2 separate regions of the Homo sapiens genome follow, and region 2 is linked to region 1. The links come from fine-mapping of genetic effects on gene expression. A gene starts in region 1. The other region holds a variant in brackets. All regions are shown on one strand. Distances are from middle to middle. Region 1 holds the start of TMEM74B (transmembrane protein 74B). Region 2 overlaps PSMF1 (proteasome inhibitor subunit 1).

Region 1 (8,336 bases):
AAAGTGCCAGGCTCTTGTTTTAACAATCAGTTCTCTAGTGAACGAATAGAGTGAGAACTCACTTATTACCGTGGGGACAGCACAGAGCCATTCATGAGGGATCCACCCCCATGATTCAAACATCTCCCACCAGGCCCCAAGTCTGCCACTGGGGATCAAATTTCAACATGAGATTTGGAGGAGACAAACATCCGAAGGACATCAACCCCAAACCCACTTTCCCCTACTGTTAACATCTTACATGAGTATATTTGTTACAATTAACCAACACTGATACACTGTTATTAGCTAAAGTCCATACTTTATTTATATTTCCATAGTTTTTGCAAAATTTCCTTTTCCTGTTCCAGTATTCTATCAAGGGTACCACACTACATTGAGTCGTTATGTCTTTTTAGGTTCCTATCGTTTGTGACAATTTCTCAGACTTTCCTTGTTTTGATGACCTTTGAGGAGAACTAGTCAGATGTTTTGTAGAATTTTCTTCATTGGGATTTGTCTGATGTTTATCTGATGACTAGACTGCAGCTATGGGTTTTGGGGAGGAAGACAACAGAGGTAAAGTGCCATTTGTGCCGCATCATATCCAAGGTACCTACTAGCGACGTGATTTGACTGTTGGAGTTGACTTTCATCACCTGGCTGAGGTCATCACGTTTGTCAGTTTCTCCACTGTAAAGTTACTTCCCACCTGCCCCCGCCCCCGCCCCGCCACCCCAGCGCTTTCCATAAAACACTCTTGGAAAGGGAGTCATTATGTGCACCTCGCACTTTCAAAATGGGGAGTTACAGTTCCCCTCCTCAAGGACTGAGTTATCTAGATACAGAATTTGGAATTCTGCATGGGAGATTTCTCTTTTCTACCTGTTTGTTCAGTTATTTTTATCAGTATGGACTCATAGATATTTATTTCATACTTTTTGTTACAGTCCAATATTACCTTATTTATTTTGTCACTCAAATTTTTCCAGCTTTGGCCATTGGGAACTCTTTCAGTTAGCTCCTACCCCCACCATTTGTGTGTGTGTGTGGTGTGTGTGTAGTGTGTGTGGTGTGTGTAGGTAGTGTATGTGTGTGGTGTGTGTGTAGTATGTGTATTGTGTGTATGGTGTGTGTGTAGTGCGTGTGGTGTGTGTGGTGCATGTGGTATGTGTGTGGTGTGTGTAGTGTGTGTGTAGAGTGTGTGTGTGGCATGTGTGTGTAGTGTGTGTGGTGTGTGTAGTGTATGTGTAGTGTGTGTAGAGTGTGTGTGGCATGTGTGTGTGGTGTGTGGTGTGTGTGTGTGTGTAGCATTTCTTTACTTTCTGGCACTATCAGATGCTCTGGGCTCATCTTGTAGTGTTTCCTGCCCAAGTCCTATAAACAGCAATTTCTTCAAGGAGCCTTGGATCCTTTTATTGGAGAATGGTATTAGAAACCAAGATTTCAGTGCTACGTGTGCTTGTTGCTATGGAGTATCATTGCTTCTAGGCCCTCTCGCCTGACAGTAAGGAAATAAATGTGTGTATACTAGCCCGTGTGTGTGTGTGTGTGTGTGTGTGTGTATTATATATATATATAACTTTCTGTATGTAATCATCTGCATCTATATTAAGCTAAACATGAGTTCATTCTGGTATCTCCAATTCTAATCTGTTGCCACATGGATCATTCTAGCCTCCTCCTCAGGGGTCATTTTTATCAGAAGCAATGTTGCTTAGTAACATAGCAGACATATGTTTATCTGTTTCCAGGAAACAGAGCTTCCAAAGGTCAAATTCTCATGCAAAAGAGGAAAAGGTTTTGTTAACCCTTTACTTACATTCATCAGTGAGGCTCTCCACTGCTCTGAGGATAAAGAACAAATTACTTGGCCTGTAAGGCTCTGCAGTGACCTGACCTGCTAAGCCCAGGCTCGTCTCCTACCAGGTTCCTTATCAGGCCCTCCATGACAACCATACTGGTCTCCTGCAACTCTCAAACTCGTCACACACTTCCTTCTACCCCAAGGTCTTCGCCTATGCTAGGCGCTCTGCTGGACTTCTCTTTCCTCCCCTCTTTATCTGGTTGCCTTCTACTCATCCTTCTAATCTCAGCTCAGTCCACACTTTTACAGGAAGCCATTCCTATCCCCAAGACTAGGTTGGCACCCTTGTTTGAGGCTTGCACTCTATACTTTTATTTGGTAGCATTTACTATAACTGCAATGTTACATTTACTTATCCTTTTCTCCCACTAGAATACAAGCTTCCTGAGTGTAGGGATGGAGTCTACCTAGCTAACTAGTATATAATATTTGCCCATTTTCTCTGTTCTTTATTCAGTGAGCACTTATCCAGAGCTTCCTAGGTGTTAGCCCCTTTTCTAGTGTCTGGGGATACTGCAGGGAGGGAAACAGGCAAAAACCCTCTTCTTTTGGCACTTATTTTTTAGGGGAGGTGGCAATAAGCAAACAGAAACTAATGTCAGTTGGTAAGTGCTATAGAGAAAAATTCAGAGTGAGGGAGTAAAGAGTGCTGGGGCACTGCTATTTTTGAAAGGATGGCCTGGAATGGCGTCTCTGAGAAGGTGGCATTTGAGCAAAGACTTGAAGGAAGTGAGGGAAGGGGGTGAGTGCGGGAAATATCAGAAAGAAAAACGTCCCAGGCAGAAGGAACAGCCAGCGCAAAGGCTGAGGTAGGACAGCGCATGACTGAGGGAAGGAACAGTGAGTGCTTTAAAGGCGGTATCTCATCCCATTCCCATAACACTTCCTACATCCGTTTCACAGAGGAGGAAACCGAGCTCCAGGAGGGCAGTCCTTTACACCAGGGCACCCAGCTGTGGGGGTGGAGCTGGGATTTGAACAGGAGTGTGGTGCCAGGGCTAGCATCCCTTTGAAGTCTCTAACAACGGGCCAGGCCTCTGCAAGGCTGGGAGGAAATGGAGGCCTTCCCAGCCCTGGTGGACCTGCCTAGGGCTAGGCTATGCTGGCCTTGAAGGCACAGGCATCCATCATCCAGGGTGACTTCCAGTCTCCTGGTTGGGGAGGGCTGCACAGAACTTTGGAGGAGGGCAGGTCAGGCTCCGCTCATGAGGTGGCCGAGGAGCAGGACATGGCACACTCATTCGCCTGTCCTTCCACATGGCCAACTTCTGCTGGCCTTCCCAGAGCCCTCAAAGCCTGCACATTCACAATCCTCATGGACAGAAGTGGATACAGGCTCAGAGGCCAGAGGTACTAACCGAGACCACACGATTCAGCTGGTCACCGTGTCTTCCCGGAACCTGCACGATTCAGACCAAAGCTGTCTCTGGGGTTGGCGTGTGTTCCCCAAAGAGGAAACGTCTCCATGAATTTGGTACTCTAGGCACTTCGCTGGACTCATCTTAACTCCGGCCCTGTAAAGGAAAGAAGTGAAAGTCACCCCTTTTCACAGCCTGTTCACCCACACCCACCTAGGTCTTCTAGGTGATCAGACATGGGTCCTGCTCTCCAGGAGCTGCCAATCCGATGGAGGAGGCTGACCCTTAAACAAAATCACGACCGTCAGAGACAAGAGCAAACAGTGCGGGCAAAAGGAGAGCCCAGATGGAGGGGCCCGTGGGGTAAGTGGGTGTGTGCCCAGGGAGGGGTTCCAGGAGAAGAGGCCCCACAGCTGGGCCTTGGAGGGTGAGGGTGTGTTTGGCCATTGGCAATGCCCCCAGGAGAACACCCCTCTTGGGCGGAGCACTCCACTGTCCCACGGAGAAAAAAATTGCAGAGAAAAGGGGGAGGGGGATCGTCGGATTCTTTCTTGCAGCCTTCAGGTGGCGCCCTTGAGCCACGGAGCCGCAAGCGCCCGAGGAGACCGTCCCGACCTAAGGACCTCGGAGAGGACCCGGGGTCCTACCTGGGGGCTGCGTGCGGGGTGGGGGTGGGGGGAAGGGGAAGTGGCAGAGTGGGGGTGAGGAGTGGGGAGGCACCTGCGCTTGGCGCAATAGGGGCTCTCCGGTGGTGGGGAGGGATCTTCTTCAGCAGCCCCCGCCCGCCCCGCCCCTGCGCCCGTGGACCGCGGGCTCCAAGCCCCAGTTCCCTAAGCCCAGGCGCCGGCGATCCAGATCTGCCTGGAGGGGAGGGGAGGACGGTGGATCGGAGCCCCCGCACCCTCGCCCCAGCCCATCACCCGCCTTCCTGTCCCTCTCCTTGCTAACTCTCCGGGCGCCCTCGCCGGCCGCGGGCGGAGCTCCCTCCGCGGCGCTCGGCGAGCCCCGGCCCCCGCCCCTTCTCCCGTCCCTCCGTCCCCGGATCCCCCCCCCGCCTCCCCAGCGGCCGCCACCGCCGCCGTACAGCTCCGCGCGGCGCGAGTAGGTACGTGCGCCTCGGCAGTGGCTCCGGGCCGGGCCGGGAAGGGGGCGGGAGACCGGGAGGGCGAGGCGGTGGCGGCCGGGCCCGCGCCCTCCGGGCTGCGCCGCAGGAGAGAGACCCCCGCAGGCGAGACCCCCGCAGGCGTACGCCGGCTGCAGGAAGGCGGACGGGCACCGGAGAGGACGCACCCTCGCCCGCCGGCGGCCGGGCGCCCTTCGCCCCAGCGTGGTGAGGCGGGGAGGGAGGCCCGGCACAGGTACGCACGCGGAGAGGGGACCGCTGGGGGCGGCAGGAGGCCGAGGGCCGGGGGCGGGGAGTGGCGGCGAAGGACGGCGAGCCTGACCTCGCGGCCCGCCGAAGGACATGCGACCAGGGGACCCGGCCTCCCCGGGCCTCCGCCTGGTCCGGTTCGGCCTTCCGGGTCCCGCGTCTGTGGGCAAGGGCAGGAGCAGGGGGTGTGGACTGGGCCGGCGGGAGCGGGCGCGGTGGGCAGCCGGCGTGCTGGGGCTTTCTGCGCGCAACTTTGGGTACAACAGCGTGGACCTGCGTGTGCGTATCTGCGCGCCCCAAGGCTTTGTGTACAACTCGTGCGTGTGTCTATCGACTGGGTTTTGTGAAGCTTCACCCACAGCCGCTGTGCGTCCCTCTCTCCGGGTGTCAGTGCGCGCGGCGGGTGGGGTATTGGGCCCCTGCGGGTCTTGGTGGATCTGGCTTGGGTCTCACTCCCAGGGGCACTTTGTGTGTGTGTGTGTGTGTGTGTGTGTGTGTGTGTACGCGCGTGTGCGTGTGACGGGGTACTCGCGTGGCCCGAAGATCCGAGGGTCACACTACGTGACTTCTGGGTGTCTGTGGGTACTGCTGTGGGAACAGCTGCTGGGGGAGTGTGTGTGGAACTGGAGTGTTCCTTTCAGGACCTGTCTGACTGCAGATGAAATTAGTAACTGGTGGGGTCGTGGGGTGTGAATGGTGGGCGGGAGCAGCTATGTCAGTTGGTGTGTTTCTGCTTATGTTAGGGTAATTGGGCACGGCCTTTGTGTAACTGGTGAATATCTCTGAACCTGGGCATGAAACAGAGAGATGTCCTAACTCTGGGTGAGAGGAATCCTCATTTTTCTCTGCCCTCTCACTGTGGCATCCTAAGAAAAAAGTTTTGGGTTCCTGCAGCATGAAGGAGAGCTCTGCTCCCAGAATTTGGGAGCTCCAGATTTCTTCCAGGGTGTGGAGGCATCAATATATCAGTCTGGGAAAGGGGTTCCTGGGCCACTCCAGGAGCTGAGTTGGGTGGAAGGTGCTGAGGGTGTGGGTGGGGGCCACTTCTGAGCACCCATGTGGCACCCACTGCTGGTCCCTGTTTGTGGCTGGGCACTCAGGAAAATGTTTTTGGTGCTAAGAGTAAAAAGCCAACCAACAAACACATCTCTTTTTTCTGTCTATTCACTGGAAAGTAAAAGCAGTCTGGGCGCAGGCTGGGGACCCAGATGGAATTCAAACTTATGCCTGCTCTCAAGGTGCTCACGGTTGCTGATAAACAGCTGGATAAAATGAAGAGTCTATGAGTGAGGGATGCAGAGCCAGGGAAGGCTGGTGGAGTGATGCCACCAGCACAGGGGTATGAGTTTGCAGGTTTGTACATGATAATAATTCTTAGGGAATCTGCATTCAACTCCTGTCCTCCACCCTCCCATACATGCCATGGGATCTTGGCCATGTTTTATGAAATAGAGACAGTAATTCCGGATCGTGGGGCTGGTGAGGGTGATATGAGATACTCCTGCATGAAGTGTCGGGTACATGGCTCAACAGCTAGTAGGTGCTTGGTAAACATTTACTAAATTGAGACTCTGGAAAGAGAGACGTAGTGATAGAAATGGGCTGTAAAGGGAAAAGAGCTTTGTACTCACATGAAAGGCCCTATATGTGCTAAGAGGAGGTGTCTGATGCTAGTCCATATTGACAAGAAGGTCAGAAAGATTGAAAAACATGTCTTCCTGCACTGAGGCTCTTTGAGTTTCATTCATTCATTCATTCCATTCATCCTCACTTCATTTGCTCATATTTACACACACACACACACACAAACACACACACACACACACACACACAGAGAACGAACCACAGTGCACTGGAGAATAAACTCCGGCATGAGAATGCAGAGAATCGTGTGTGTGTGCATGTATGTGTGCGTAGACACACCGGAGCATGTGAGCCACTCTGCACCTGGTGGTCTCTGTAGCCCATGGCTTGTGCGCCTAGGGCTCTGAGTGTATGTGCCCTCAGGCCATCAGTGTATACAAGGAATGATGCAGTTCTGCTGTGGATTAGGAATGACACATGCCAGGCAGGGAAGGGGGCTGAGGTGGGACCTGTCGGGGAGAGGCTAGATCTGCCTAAGAGCCCCGATTGCCAACTCCAGGCGAGTGTTACAAGGGAACGGGGGCCTAAGGTGGCCAGATTCTTTCATTTTGCAGGAGAAGCCAGGAATCCAACATTTAAAATGTAAAATCTAAAATCTTTTGCTTTTTATACATTTGCAACTAATTCACCAAAAACAAATGAACAGGCCAGGAACAAAACAAAGCAAAACTTCTATCAGCCAAATATGGTCCCCGGGCTGTAAGTCAGTATCCTTCAGCGGGAATGCACATGTGCTGTCTGTGTCTGGGTGGGTTTGTGTTCAGGTTCTTGGGTGGGGTAACTCCTCTTGCAGCACAGAGAGTGTCCCTCTTCTCGCCTCTCCCTCCCGGTTCCCCTCCTGTGGTTCTAGTCCAGGTCCCCACACTTCTGTTTACATAAAGGCATTTGGCTTTGACCTAGTCATGGCTCTCCAGTCTGCCCCTTCCTCTTGGCCCTTTTAGCCATGCCATCCCCAACCTGCTGGCTTCCTTGCTGGACCCCCATCCTCCACTTTGCCCCCTCCCATCTCATCAGTCCTCCTTTCTTCTGAAGCCGAGGCACTTCCTGCTCCAGCTCCTCAGCTCTGCATGGCTCTCGGGCTCCTTGGCCTGGCTTTCAGAGTCCTCTGTGAGCCGGCCCCAGCTGGCCTCTGAGGCAGTCTGTTCCCCTTTCCAGAATGCCCTCATCACCTTCCATTGCTGGGAAGTATCCAATTCATCTTCTGAGATCTGGCTCAAATGCCACCAACTCCCAGAAACTTCCCTTCCTCTTTGTTCCCACAACAACTTCTGCATTTCTACCCCCTCCCCCACCCCTCCGTCATCCTTCCCTCATACAACAAGGTCCATGGATTGCACTGGCCAGGGTCTTGCATGCACTATTTTATGAAATCCTCACAACAACCTTATGAGGGAGGCATTTTATTCATTACCATTTTATAGATAAGATGAAGACCGAATCTGGAGAGGTCACATCACTTGCCCAAGCCCAAGTGGTGAAGCTGGGATTTGAGCCTGATATTCACACTACCTACATTCCCTCCAGTATAATAGGAACTCATCGCTAACTTTGAGCACTTAGTGTTCTGAGTACTTCGTATAGGTTATCTCAATCCTACTCCAGCTTTGCGAACTAGAGGGTAGTAGTAGTATTATTTTATAGGTGGGGAAACTGAAGCCAGACAGGATTAGTGAATTGCCCACAGCCATACCCCACCCGGTGGTAGAGTGGGATCTGGGCTTGGATCACACTGTTCTGTCATCGTCTTATTCCCTGTCTTCCCCTCTGTCTGGCAGACACCCCCAAGTGGGAATTGTGCCTGACTCACCTTCATGTGCTTAGGGACTGGTATGATGTCCTCCACAACAGGGAGAGGTTGCTACATTCAACTGACTTTCTTTTTTCTCTTCCAGCTGCCAAGGGGCCAAGGGATGAGCTGGGGCCCTCCTTCCCAATGGCATCTCCCCCTGGTCTGGAACTGAAGACACTGAGCAATGGTCCCCAAGCCCCAAGGAGATCAGCTCCCCTGGGCCCAGTGGCCCCAACCAGGGAGGGTGTGGAGAATGCCTGCTTCTCCTCAGAGGAGCATGAGACCCATTTCCAGAACCCTGGGAACACGAGACTGGGCAGCTCACCC
Region 2 (8,336 bases), 35 kb after region 1:
GCATTCTGTAAGGCTGCACTGAATAGGAAACTCAGGATGGCATGTGCTTACTCTAGAACCAGAACCTTCTTTATCAGTACAGAATGCCAACATGGCTGCCTTCCCAGCTGCTAATCTGTACCTGTGGCTGATCACTGGGTGTGAACACTGTCTGCACACCAGGCTTCTGGAGTGCCAGCTGTGGTTTCGTGGCACAACTAGTATCAACAACCTAAATATTTTCAGACCCTAATCCCTAATTCCACAGCATTATTTGAACCACCTAGGCAAGTGCTGCTCAAACTGTCAGGTGCACATGAGTCAGTGGGGGATCCTGCTAAAATGCAGGTTCTCATTCAGAAGACTAGGAGTGGGACCTCAGATTCTGCATTTTTCACAAGCTCCCAGGTAAGCTGACACTGCTGATTTGGGGGTAGACTGTTTCCCAGTCAGAGTACAAATTCAGCCATGAAGTTTTGGTGTCTGAGTTTATTAACTTTGTCCAGCTAAGAGTGGAAACTTAGAATTGGGGAAATGAAGATGCTGATAACTGCAAAGAAGTATATGTGTACATATGCAAGAGAAGCACTGGTCACAGGGCCCTGAGCAAACAGAGCAATAAACCTTTCCATTTCCTTACCCTGAAGGATATCCTGTGAGATCAAAGCTGAACCAGGGACTGAGAAGGGTTGGGAAATGCTACATTTAAGCTAAGTGATCAAAGATTTTTAGAAGAAAGAAAAACAGAAAGAAAAAATATACATAAATTATGCTAAAAATTGTAAAGCATTCAGAACAGAAAAATGTCACCCATAATCTGACTCTAACACAATGATTACTTTTGCATTATTTTCATGTCTTCTTTCATAAGCATGTTTTAATGTGACTGTAACAATACTATATCATTTTGGATCTCATTGCTTTCCTCCACATAGGTGCTGTATTTCCTAAGTTGTCTTTACTATTAACATTTTTAATGGCCAAGTAATACATACTCAAGTGAAGCAAATTTTAAAAATTTACTTAATTTTCTATTGCAAGCACTGATGTTTCTGGGGTATGCATGCGTAACTACAAATAATACTGTACTTAATAACTTTCATGCACATGTTTTTTTTCTATGTTAGAAAACACAGATTTCTTATCCTCTGTCACTCCACTACTATATGATGGGAACAAAGAACTTGTTTCTTTGGTCAACTGATTGAAAGGAGTTGTGCTCAGGAGCCTCAACTGCACCTGACTGAGATGATTAGATCTTGGTCCTTCAAGCTAATGAGACTTAGATAAGATTTTAGACTGAGTTGATGTAGTAACGGGTTAAGACTCTTGGAAACCTCAGGGGAAGAAAGATATATTTCACATTTGAGAGGTCAGAGAACAGATTGTGGTAGATGGAATTCGATCCCCTCTCAAGACTCCACAACTCCTAATCCCCAGTACCTATGAATGTGATGAGAAAGCAATCCTATTATTGTTTCGTTGTATGGCACAGTTGACCTCAAAAGGGGACATTATCTCGGTGGGCTAATCTAATACATGGGAACCCTTAAAAGCACAGAACATGGATTGTGGAGGAAGAAGAATGCCCAAGAAGAGACTCAACACAGCACTGCTGGCTTTGAAGAGGTGGCAGACACATGAGAAGAAATGCAGAAGGTCTTATGGAGCTGAGGGAGAGGGATACGGACCTTAGTCTTATAACCGCAAGGAACTGAATTCTGCCAGTGACCTGAATGAGCCAAGCAAATCCATACTCTTGACCTAGAGAATTATGAGATAATAAGTGGGTGCAGTTTTAAGCTACTCATTTGTGGCAATTTATGATGCACACATATGCTGCAAACACTTTCCTCACTTTACTGGCCTTACACTTTGAGTTCAGTTAGCTTACAGATGTTATGAAGACAATGTTTTTCTAAGTAATTTAGAAGAATAATGAGACTGACTCCAGCATTGGTAAGGATAGGGAAATGACATTGAAACATAGTGAGAATGTCAATTAACACAACTGTTTAGAAAAAGGGCAACTGAGCAATCTGTATCAAAATCTCTATAAACAGGCTTGGTCCTTAATGTAGTAATTCTATAGGAATCTATTCTAAGGAAACATTCAGAGACGTGCTCCAAGTTGCATAAAAGTATGTCTACTGAAGCATTAGTTATGGCAGTCCCAAATCAGAAATGACAGGCTAAAAAAAGAACTTGCATTGTCCTTGAGTTTTCTTCCCTTCATTAAGCCAACCCATCAGCAAGTCCTGTCAGGTATACTTCCAAATATACCCCAGAGCCACCTGCCTTATATACCACCATAGTCTACCACCTACCACCATTATTTCTTGCCTGGCTGCCTGTGTCAGCTTCTTCTCTGGGTCTGTTTTTACTCTTGTCCCTCTATAATCCATCTCTACAAAGGAGCCAGAGGGTTATTTTGTTTTTTAATGTAAACAATATGAAGTCCCTCCCTTGTAAAACCTGTCCAGTGGCTTCCCATTCTCCTGATCTTGGCCCCATGGGTTATATGCATCGGACTGTGCTTACCCCATGGTGTCATCTCCTCTGTTTCTGCTCCACTGCTGTACTGTGTTCAAACCAGTATTTGGAGCAATCCAAGCCAAGTTCATTTCTTTGTTCTTGGAGCAATCCAAGCCAAACTCATTTCTTCTGAAACAACTGCCAATACATGTGTCAAAAGTTGGAAATACTAAGGGCTGAATCCTGCTCCAATGCTCATAAGATGTGTTGCTTTGGGCAAGTCAAGCTCTTGCTGCCTCAGTTTTCTTTTGCATAAAACAGAGATACCAAGAGCATCTACCTCATTCTCTTATGAGGCTTAAAAGATATTGTTTTACATATACTTTACATTTAATGTAACTGCTCAGCCCACAGTAAAAGCTCAATAAATATTAACCATGTTAACACGTCCACTGTCAGAATATGACTGGGATTCTTCAAGAGGAAAAAAAAAAATCCGTGGTTAACCGAGTCCCAACCACGTAACTTTTCAAAACATTGATGGCTCCCATCACCCCATGGATCAAATCCAGCTTCTTAGCACATACTGGCCTTGTGATTTGGCCCTCATGTTCATCTTTTCTCCCTTCACATGCTGACATGAGTGAAACAAAAACTCCCCCACTTCTACAAGATGATTTCATAGCCCCACTGGTACCCATCGTTCCCTCTGCCATAAAAGTCAATTACCCTCAATACCACAGAACTTTTATTGGTCCTTTAAAATTTAGCTCATCAGGCATCATCTCTCTGAAAACTTTCCTTCTATCCTTCAGATTAATCACTCTTTAATGTGCTTCAGCAGATCTCAGACATACTTCTACCATTGTTTTAAAAAGATTTATGATCTGGAATGAAAAGGGCAATTAGCCCCTATCAACTGTGAGCTCCTTGAAGGCTGGGTCCACACCTCATGACATATTCCCAGTAAGTGGCACATGATGGACACTTAGATTGATTTGGGCATAAGACTCAAGTCCAAATTCTGGCCTCACCATTTCACAGATGTGTGACCCAGGGCAAGTTAGAAAATCTCCAAGCTCTAGCTTTCTCTTGTGTAAAATACAGACAATAGTATCTATTTCACAGGGTTGTTATACATATTAAATGAGAATGCTTACAAAAGTGTAGTGCCTGAGTCCCATAAGTAGAATTCAATAATTTACTATTATAACACAACTTTTGCTTCTTACTGTTGTGAAGTTACTTACTGTACATGAACTTCAGCTTCCTTACCTGCAAAATGGGGATAGCCCTTACCAATCTCATGGAATTGTTGAGGGGATTAAATAAGAGCACATGGATTAAATGCCCAGCATTTGTCTAGAATCAATGGCACTGAATAAACAGTAGCTGTATAAATGTTATTGAACTTTGCTATCCACAGGAAAAAACCAAAGGGATATTATGTGACTCCAAGGCGAAAGGAATGAAAACAAATTTTAAGAATAGAGAATAGTTGCACAAGTAATGAAAAATGAAAATTAAATTATTAAAGTAACATAGGTAGAGGATAATCTTTTCAAAATATGGTGCTAGACCAACTGGATATCAATGTGGAAAAATATAAATCTCACACCACACATAAAAAATATTTTAGATGGATTATAGATCTAAACATAAAAGGTAAACCATTAAAGCTTCTAGGAGAAAATATATGAGGATTTCTCCATGACCTTGGCATAAGGCAAAGACTTCTTAAACAAAAATCAAAAGAGCACCAAACATAAAGGGAAAAGCACTGATAAGCTAGATTACATAAAAATTAGGAATGCTTTAACAATAATTAAAAAAAACCATTAATAGGGTAAAAGGGCAAGCTACAGAGGGGAGGAAGACATTTGTAATACATATATTTAATGAAGGACTTAAATTCAGAATATATTATATAAACAATGCCAACAAGTCATAAAAAGACAAGCCAATAGAAAAATGAACAAGAGATTTGATTACCTCTTCACAAAAGATGAAATCCAAATGGCTAGTAAACTTCGAGAAAAAAAAAATTTTAATGTGGCTCATGGACTCCTGTCCCATGAGGTCAAAACTATTCTATCTCAGAAGCTATTTGCTTTTTTTTTGCTGTGTTGACATTTGCACTGACGGTGCAAAAGCAACAGTGGGTGGAACTGCTGATGCCA[T/C]AGTATGACTCAAAGCAGCAGCACTAACCTGGCCGTTATTGCACCCTCCCTTACCACTCACTCACCCACATCCAGCTTCACTTTAGAATGTACTTGATGAAGAGGTATAGATTGTCAAGTTTTGTAAAATTTCAATCTTTGAATATGTCTTTTTAATATTCTGCGTGAAGTGGGAAACGGGCATAAAGCACTTTTTTTTTTTTTTTTGAGACAGGGTCTTGCTCTGTTGCCCAGGCTGGAGTACAGTAGTGTGATCATGGCTCACCACAACCTCCACCTCCTGGGCTCAAGCAATCCTCCCACCTCAGCCTCTCAAGTAGTTGGGACTCCAGGGTCACACCACCACATCCAGCTAATTTATAGAGACAGAGTTTCACCATGTTGCCCAGGCTGGAGTACAGTGGTGTGATCATGGCTCACCACAACCTCCACCTCCTGGGCTCAAGCAATCCTCCCACCTCAGCCTCTCAAGTAGTTGGGACTCCAGGGTCACGCCACCACATCCAGCTAATTTATAGAGACAGAGTTTCACCATGTTGCCCAGGCTGGTCTCAAACTTCTAGGCTCAAGCAATTCACTTGTCTCAGTCTCCTGAAGTGCTGGGATTACAGGTGTGGGCCACCACACCTGGCCTTGCATAAAGCACTTCTACTGCACACAGAGGCACAATGTTGTCATGATGAAAAGTACTTGTGCAGTTGTTCAAGCTGCTGGCTGAAGCAGTCATTTTTTCAAAGAAAACAGTTTTTTGTTTTTTGTTTTTACTTGAAAGAATGACAAACCATGCTTATTCAACTTGGCTACATAGCGGACATTTTCTCGAAAAGGATGTGAGCCCATTACTTCAAGGAAAATAATGAATGCTATTTACTGCCAATGAGAAAATTCAAGTTTTCAAGCAAAAATTAGCAATGATATTGTATAATAAGATGTGTCAACTTTGAGCAGATCTGCATATCTCAGTGAATCAGTATTTTCCAAATGACCAAAATACACGATCTTCTACAATAGTATTATACACGGGTAAAAGGTCCATTCAAATGGCATGATAGACCAGCAGATTTTGATGTAACAGATATATAACAAGTTCACTGGTATGGATTGATTCCACATTACAACTAACCCTTACAAAAACTACTACTCGTCAAGTTGGTTTAACAGTAAAGAATATCTAGAATTATTTGAAAAGGTTATTAAACTAGTCCTCTTTTTTTCCAACAACTGATATGTGAAAGGCTTCAATGAAAACAACATATCCCCTACAGACTGAATGCAGAAGCAGAAATGAGAATCTAGTTGTCTTCCATTAAGCCAGACATTAAAGAGATTTGCAAAATGTAAAAGAATGTTACTCTTCTCACTAAATTTTTTGTTTTGAAGAGATATTTTCACAGGAATTTGTTATTTATATTAACACATAATGGGCTTATTTTTAAATGAATGAATAAATGTGTATTTTGAAAATATCATTTGTAACTGCTAATGCAGTAAATATTGCTACATATAACCCATATAAGAGCTCTCTGGGGTCCTCAATAATTTTTGAGAGTGCTAGAGGGTTCCTGAGAACATAAAGTTTGAGGTCCTCCAGTGTAAGTAATATAACTCAAGGAAGTAAAAGAAAAAAAAACCTAATACACAGGGATGTTCATAGCTGTATTAATCACAAATTAGAAATGCTTGACATACCCCATAGAAGTTATATAAACCATAGCATACTAGCAAAATGAAATATCAGATACTAAAAGAGTTATGTTTGGCACTTTAGTAAATGGATTATGAAATTTAAAAAGAAAATGCAAAATGCAAACTATTTGGAACATTTAAAAATATGTAAAGATACAGATTGGTTGGGATTAAAAATGAATTCAGAATGACATAAATAAGAGCTTTATATCTAAAGATTTATTTTTAGAGAAGCTGGTTAAGCATAGAAAAAACTGTTTTTTACAAAACATGGAGCAGGATTTGGGGCATACAGTCTCCTGACTATCAGAGGACAGATGAAGCAAAAGGAAATAGGTTAGACTTATAATGATAATGAAAAGTTAGGCTGGATAAAAAAATATTTTCCTTACAGATGGTTGTTTTCAGTAATTCTTTCCTAGACTTCTCAGGAGTAGAAAAGACCTGCCCACCTCCAATCTTCCACTACAATGGAATGTCCTCTCTAGCTATACTCCTAGCCTAGACGCACCCAGTATCACAGCAGACCCAGAATCTTTTGACAAGCTGCAGCCATACATCACTACACACACAGGGAAACAAGTCTCTTTACGCTCTAGGGCAGACAATTCCAACTTTAGTTTGTATTTGGAAATTTCCAGGTGTGAGAGAGGCAAAACAAGAGTGTTTAAGGTGAGGGGTGAGACACTGGACTGTGTCCTATGGGAAGGAGCAGAGGCTGATATTTCTGCTCCGAGCGCCAGCCAAGGGTGTTCAGTGATGGGATAATTAATACTCTGCAGCAGCCAGAGAGGCCAGCTTCTGTGCTGCTTTTTGCCTCCTTCCTGCTGTGGCCTCCCCCCAAAACTGGGCATTTCAGGGAGAAAGGAAAAGGTGGAAGTGTGAGTGCCTGGTTGCTGAGCAAAGTGGTGGTGATGGGAGCTATAGTAAAGAAATCAGGGTCAACACAGCTATCTGAGCTCATGGACAAATGGGGCTGGCCAAGGAATAAGCAGGGAGTGGGGGCAGAGGCAGGTGAGGTGATTACAGAGGGGAGATCTGATAGGCTGTCAATTTGCTAGAGGCTAAGAAAAAGCCTCCTAAACATTCTGCCTCCTCTTCCAACCATCTCTCCAGTTCAGTGCCTTACTCTTGTGAAATAGATCTGCCTCAGAAAGACTTAATTGAGGAGGAGAAAGGGGATGGGCTTCTCCATAATCAGTCTACACTACATTGAATTTGTACACCACATTGCTTATTACATGAACTAACGCTGACAGGTGCAGTGGGAAAAGCATAAGCTGCTGAGTTAGACCCACTTCGGGGTAAATCCCAGTGCTCACCCTCCCAGCGAGATAACGCTGAGAAGCTACGTTACCTCCCTCAGCCACTGTCTCTTCCCCTGTAAAGTGGGGATGCCACTGATCTTCTTGTAGGGCTGTCCAGAAGATAAGCAACCATAAATTAACACACTCGGTTCACAGGCCAACGCATGGTGAACAGCCAAGAAAGGGAAATTACTTCTGTCCTCAACACAGGGTGGTGATGATGATGATGATGATGATGATGATGATGATGATGATGATAACGGAAACAATGTCCATAATGGACCTGGGCCTGGGCCTAAATACTTGCCCAACACCCGCTCTGGGCTGACACTCTCACACCTAATCCTCCATCAAATCTGTTTTGGGGGGAAGATGGTAGGTATTTAAAAAAAATAAAACAAGGTTCTCTCTTGAGAGACCCTCTACTCATTACACCTTCACATTTGTTCTCATCTTTGCCAGCTACCTGAATGGGCATCCACTGAATATTTTTTTCCAGTGACCAGTTACTAGACCACTGAATATTTACTGAATGTCAACATGTGATATCCACGATCACATTCAATCCTACAAAACCTTTGACACAGCTATAATTATTCCCAAGGTGCAGATCAGAAAACTGAGGCTTCAAGAGGCTAAATGTGCTGAGACAGGGAAAGGTGTAAGCTCAGGGTATGAACCCAGCTGATCATTCTTCAAAGCCTGTGTT

What was found. PIP is the estimated chance that this variant, and not a neighbour inherited with it, causes the effect.
Region 2: its variant is fine-mapped to the expression of TMEM74B in blood mononuclear cells (TOPMed, PIP above 0.99).

The regions. Positions count from the first base shown.
Region 1 is chr20:1,181,364-1,189,699 of GRCh38, reverse strand. It overlaps TMEM74B (transmembrane protein 74B), which reads left to right and starts at 4,719. Exons shown (of 3, transcript NM_001304748.2): 1 at 4,719-5,398; 2 at 5,752-5,929; 3 at 8,113-8,336. The coding sequence starts at 5,899.
Region 2 is chr20:1,146,685-1,155,020 of GRCh38, reverse strand. All of the region lies in intron 4 of PSMF1 (proteasome inhibitor subunit 1), which reads right to left. Among named protein-coding and RNA genes, the nearest start is that of PSMF1, 32 kb to the right of the region's middle. The variant T/C (reference allele first, on the strand shown) is at 4,635.